2 separate regions of the Homo sapiens genome follow, and region 1 is linked to region 2. Evidence: fine-mapped expression QTL. A gene starts in region 2. The other region holds a variant in brackets. All regions are shown on one strand. Distances are from middle to middle.

Region 1 (2,909 bases), 52 kb before region 2:
TTTGCTACTTTGTTCCTCCATTTGTTTGGTGTGTGACCTTGGACAAGTTTCTTAACCTCTCTGTGCCTCCATGTCCTTATCACTAAAATGAGGCTGACAAAATTACCACATAAGGTTGAGGTAAGGATCAAATAATACCCAGTGCTTAGACCGTGACTGTCACATAGTAATTGTGGTGAGGTATTGGCTTATTAATTAAAGAGGACACTCCATGGTTCTGTGACCTCAATTCAAGTTGTTTACATTCACAAGGATATAACCACACTGAGCCAAGAGACTTTAAACTCATTAAAAGCATATTGCATATTTTTTTCGTTCCTTCGTTTTCAGCTTCTTCTTAATCAAGAACACCCTATTTTCTGGTGTGTAAAGTTAATCCTCTTTGATAGAAAATCTATCAGCAAAATAAAGGTTGAATCACTCTACACTCTCATGTCATCTGTTAAAATTTCACCATCTGCTCCCACCATGAGCTTGGTTCCATCATGTTATTATTAGAACCTACATTTCCAATCTTTCAAAATATATGCAGAGTGCAAGAGAGAACAAAACCTTTGGCTGAGTGGAGATAACAGTTAAGCCTGCACGTACCAACTGGATCACTTTTCTTGTCAAAGCATTTTATGTATTTAAACAACCAGTTTTAGCCTGATTAATCTGAGAGCAATCAGCAACAGCAGAGGGCAAACCATGCCCTTATGGAATAAACTCACCCTGGCTTTTACTATGCATCTCCTCACTTCTTAAAAACACAATGTTTGTTGTTGTACAATATTTAATCATACAGCCTAGAGTTTTACTATTAACCAATTAATCTTGTCTTCTTTTATTTAACAAGTAAAGCAATATCTTGGCAACAAAAGCGCAGACCCAGAAGCAGAGGCCAGCGCCATATATATCAAACAGACTGCCCTGCATTCCAAACATATTGTTGGGCCAGACAGCAAATCAAGAAGTGATGCAAACAGCAAGATATTAGTACTTTCAACACTAAACTGGCAAAAGCCATTGATACATGTTCTTTTGACCTACTGTTTTTGCTGTTGCTGTCATTTTACTCTCGAAGGAACCTATTGAAACTTCAAAGGAGAGGGTTGAGAACTCTATATTGACATTGACTTTAGATGTAAACAAAATTTAAAAATAATAGTCTTAGAAAATAGAATTGGAAAGAGCCAAATTTTCACCTCTAAAGCATTTCATTTTAGTTCATTTTGTTAAAAGGGTAAAACTTTCCTTCCTATCATGTCTTCTGAGAAAGGGTAGTGTGGTTAAGTATCTCCTAAATAGGACACACATCTGAATGGCAGACAGTTTGAAATTCACCAGCATCTATACCAAAATCCTGTATGTTTCTTTTGGCAGAACAGAAATCCTCTTCCTCCCACCCTATTAGGGAGATTACATTGTCTCATTTAGACTGCTTAATGATACAAACATGGGTTCTTTAGCTCAAGGAGTATTTTTTCAGCACCTGGCCAGTGCCAGGCTATTCTCCTGGACACATTGGCACAAGACAGTCATGGAGATGCCAGTGACTGCAGAGAGGAAATGAGCAATTCTCAGCACAAGTCAAAATAAATAATCAGGATGGGCTGCAGT[C/G]GAGGATGTAGTTTTTTTCTAATATTTTTCCAGAAGGGTGCACTATTGCACACTGTACAGCTCGAAGCACAAATTAGGATGTGATAACTTAGAAGCTTATTCATCATTCTTACACTGTAGATGCAGATGTATATACTGGACCTGAAACCTTAGAGAAACATTCTAGACCCGAGTATACTTTCTCCCAGCAGGGACCTTGAAGGGAATATGTATTTCAATCACATGAAAACTATGAACTTTAAATATTAATGCTGGAAGAAAAATTTCATGATGGGGAAATTGTCTGAACAAGCAAGACAGACCTATGGAACAGCTCATACATTACCAGTCACCATCACAGGGATCTGAAGTAGGAAATGGGGAAATGGGGCTAGAGGACACAGTTTTATGGTTAACATCATGGCCCAAATTTAGGCAAATGTTTCCCCTCTTAATGTGCTCTACATCGTACAGTTGAAGTAAATTCAGAATTTTCAATAAAATTTTACTAGAAACTAGGATGTAAATAAAGAATATAAACATGGCCATGATAATGACCCCAGATAATTTCACTCTCAAGTGTGTGCTGGACCTAGGATGACGGTCACATCTTCCTGACTTTCAGATTTCCTAATTCTTGGTCTGACATTATCTTTAACCTATGCTACAATATATAACCTCCTAGATATGCAGACTCAATGTCTAGGCCAAAAGAAAGACAGCACTCTTCTGATCATGAGAGTGGAGCTTTCATTTTCTAGCTCCTGTCTGAGGAACCCCCTTTCTCCCAGGAGGATGAAACTGGCATGGATGCCAGTGCACGGATGCAAAGTAGACCTATCAGAAGATATGATATAAATATAAATATAAATTTCAGAATTGCCAAATAGAATTCTATTCCAACCAAATAGAAAGTGTTGGAATCCATAGAATCTTTCTAAAGGAAAGTATAAAATAAAAAAAGAGGAGATCTAGGACTGAGTCCTGAGAATGTTCAACTTTTAAAGAGCAGGTGGAGGTGGAGGAGTTCCTAAGGGAGACTGAGAAGAAATGGCCTGAAGAGGCTGGAAGAAAACTAAGGGAGCATGGTGTCACAGGGGCCAAGGGATGGCAGCATCTTACTGTGTGGAATAGATGGGAGGCCAGGAATGATGGGAAATAGAAATGCTTCTGAACCTAAGGCCCATTGGTCCAGCAAAAGTATTCTGCAATGAGAGCAGTACTCTAGGTCTGCTGTGTTCAACACAGTAGGTACACGTTACTTTTGAACTCTTGAAATCTGGCTAGTGAGAATGAAGACTGAATTTCTAATTTAATTTACTTTAGTT
Region 2 (2,909 bases):
TTATACTCCAGGAGAGTAGAGAGAAAACACACACTCTAAATGTATGTATTTTATGATTCTTTCGATGCAATTAATACACTGCGTTGCAGAAGGTTTTAGGCTTCTGCCTTTAAAAAAATTATATAGGATTATGTATAATCAATAATCATTAAACTAAAGGCAAAGAAAAGAAATCTGGTAGTTCCATCAATTTTATTTCGCTCTTGCATGGATTGCCTTTGTTAACATTTTTGGCAGAAAAAAGAATCAAAGCAATTGTAGGACTCTGCACCCCACAATGCGAGCTTCAATTGAAACAATGGTCTTATCGTCTAAGACAGATCAACGTTAAAGTTGGGCAAAAAAACTTAGGAGATCTTGCAAATCTTGTTATGTGAAACCCGTCCTCCCAAAAGACCTATTGGACCACACCTTTGTCCTCCGCGCCCTTTTTTTGCAGGGTCATTAACTCGCATTATTTTTTTGTTCTCCACAGTTCTCACTTGCTTCTCTTCAGTCTTTGCTAGGTTTTCCGCGATCTCCAGTGCAGCCCCTTCCACTTGCCGCGATTCTGCCTCTCTCAGACACTGACACGTAACCTCCTCCCCATACCAAGCCCTCACCCCAAACCAAGCTGTTAAGAACAGCTACAACTGCTTCTGGGAGACGTGGGGGGCGGGGGCAAGGCGGGGGCAAGGCGGGGGCAAGGCGGGAGCACCTCGACCCTCCCGCGAACTCTCGCCGCCGGTCAGTGCCCCCTGAACTGGATGGGACCAAGGGAGTCCCTCCGCAAGGGCCTCCACTTCTGACTACGGTCCGCACGCCCCACCCCTGCTCAGCACCCTGGCAACCCGCGGGACGCTTTGCTGGTGCCAGGCTTCAATCTCTTGTTCTCATTTTCTCGTGTCCTCGCGCTCTTCCTTCTACTGTATTTTTGTCTTAAATTCTTTAATGGCGAGAGAGAGAAAAAAAAACAAAACCAGCTCAGAGCTATAGTCTTCTTCCACAAATACGTGTGTGCTTTTCAGAACCTTTCTCCGTCCCTTTCTCCTGCTAACACATGTGGGGTCTGCAGTGCAAAGGACTCTCCTTTCGTCCAGTGACCAAATGGCAGTCTCTCAGTTTGCCAATTTCATTCATCACGCCCGCACCGACTGAAGCCTACTCCTCACCAGTTCAGCTGTCTTCCAGTTAATTGTATTAACTGCTAAGCACCTCCTCCACCTTTTCGGGTTCTATTACCGCCCTCATTAAAAAAAAAAAAAAAAAAAAAAAAAAAAAGAAGGAAAGAAAAGAAAAGAAAAAAGAAAATCCAACACGAACACTCAAGATAGCGTGAATTCAAAAAAGAAAGTGTGCGTGTGCAACACAGTCTGAGTGTGTGCATCCGTATGCGTCGCCTGCCTCAGCCTGCCCGGGTCCTGAACATGTAGCTGAGAGGTGCAGGACAGTCAGAGGGCCAAAACTTCCCCTGCCAGGCTGAGGCTGGGCCCTCCCGAGCTCACCTGTCCGCGTTCAGGTAACTGGCTAAGTGCCCGCCCGGCCGCGTTCCAGGACACCTGGCCGGGACAGAGCGAATGCCAGTGAATCCCAGGGCGCCCTCTCCCGCGCGTTGGTTCTCTAGCCCTCCTTCCCTGGGAGGGGTGGGATTGGGAGTGTTCTGTTTTCATTACTGCACCCCTTCCCCTAAAGACAACGGGACTGCCCTCCTCCACAGCGCCTTACCTCAAACAGGGGACCGATCTTGTTCTTCTCCAGGTAAGCCTGGATCCGGGTTTGCGGATGAGACGCCATGGGGAACAGATGGGACCGCGAAGAGAGTGCAGGGAGAACGCGCGGCTGTGCGCCTCCGCTGGGGACAACCCTCCTTTTACCCGGACTGGGGCCGGGACAGGAGCTCCGGAGCCTCGGCTGCCCTGCGTGGCTGGCTCGGCCCCGGCCGCGGGCGTGGGTGGCAGCCCGGGGAGCCACGCGCGCGTGGGGCGCTGAGAGCCGGAAGCCTGGGCGCAGCGCCGCCAACTCAGACAACTCCGAGGCGAGGGGAGAACTCATTCATCGCGTTCTCCGCCTCGCGCCCACCCTCGCCGCTCTCCGCAGCGCCCGGCGCAGTGGGGAAATTCGAGGCAGAGGTTCCTTTCTCCTCTGGGCGGCAGCAGCAGGAATCAGGGGGCGGGAGGCGAGCTGTGTCGAGGGGCGCACGCGGGCGGACAGGGGCCGCGGGGCTCGAACTCGCCACCGGTGTGTGTGCGTGCGTGCGTGTGTGTGTGTGTCCGTGCGCGCGCGACTGTGTGTACCTCCTTTCCCCGGTGACGGAACAAACAGCCCGGGCTGCTCCCCGAGGCTGCTCGCCCTACCAGCCGCTCCCTAGCGACAGCGCCGCTTAAAAAGCCAATGGTGAAGGTGCTTCTTTCAAAGTGCACATAAATCTGGTGCTTGTTGGCTACTCCTTGGCAGCTACAAATGCAGTTCGAAAGGGGATCGTCCCCACCGCCCCTTCTGAGCCTCTCCTCAGCACCTTCTGCCCTGCCTACTCTAGCGCAGGGGTTGAGAAGGGCAGAGTTTTGAGAAGGTGCGTGGGTTTAAGGGTTTGCCGCGAAAAAGAAGTTGCCTTCCTTTTCAAAATCTGGTTTGGCCTGGAGCAAGTCGACGGGTGAACGCAGCCTGAGAACCCAGCTGAAAACTCTCAAAGTGCAGGAGCTCAAAGGCTGGAACCAGCCTTTCAGCATTTGACAGGGAGAAGAGAAATGAGCGAGCCAGCCCTCCCCTCCAAAGTTGGCCTTCCTAATCCACGCCTTGAGTCATGTCTGTATACCTATAACTGCATCTCAGACACCACACTATCCCACTTCATAATGTTTCCTCTAGATACTGCGTGAGCTGCTCAAATTTAGCCAATACCTTTCTTATTATGCAGGGATTTCCGAGTCGAA

Alleles and levels. Alleles are on the strand shown, and positions count from the first base shown. SD is a standard deviation of normalised expression in the study named.
With allele G in place of C in region 1, the expression in cerebellum of the gene that starts at base 1,553 in region 2 is higher (large effect, 0.81 SD a copy in GTEx).

The links.
Region 1: its variant is fine-mapped to the expression of C8orf34-AS1 in cerebellum (GTEx, PIP above 0.99). The same link has a PIP of 0.9 or more in cerebellar hemisphere.

Annotation. Positions count from the first base shown.
Region 1 is chr8:68,382,400-68,385,308 of GRCh38, reverse strand. The region is part of intron 1 of C8orf34 (chromosome 8 open reading frame 34); the gene reads right to left. Among named protein-coding and RNA genes, the nearest start is that of C8orf34-AS1, 52 kb to the right of the region's middle. The variant C/G (reference allele first, on the strand shown) is at 1,603.
Region 2 is chr8:68,330,135-68,333,043 of GRCh38, reverse strand. It overlaps C8orf34-AS1 (C8orf34 antisense RNA 1), which reads left to right and starts at 1,553. Exons shown (of 3, transcript NR_038877.1): 1 at 1,553-1,737. It overlaps C8orf34 (chromosome 8 open reading frame 34), which reads right to left and starts at 2,089. Exons shown (of 14, transcript NM_052958.4): 1 at 1,705-2,089. The coding sequence starts at 2,031.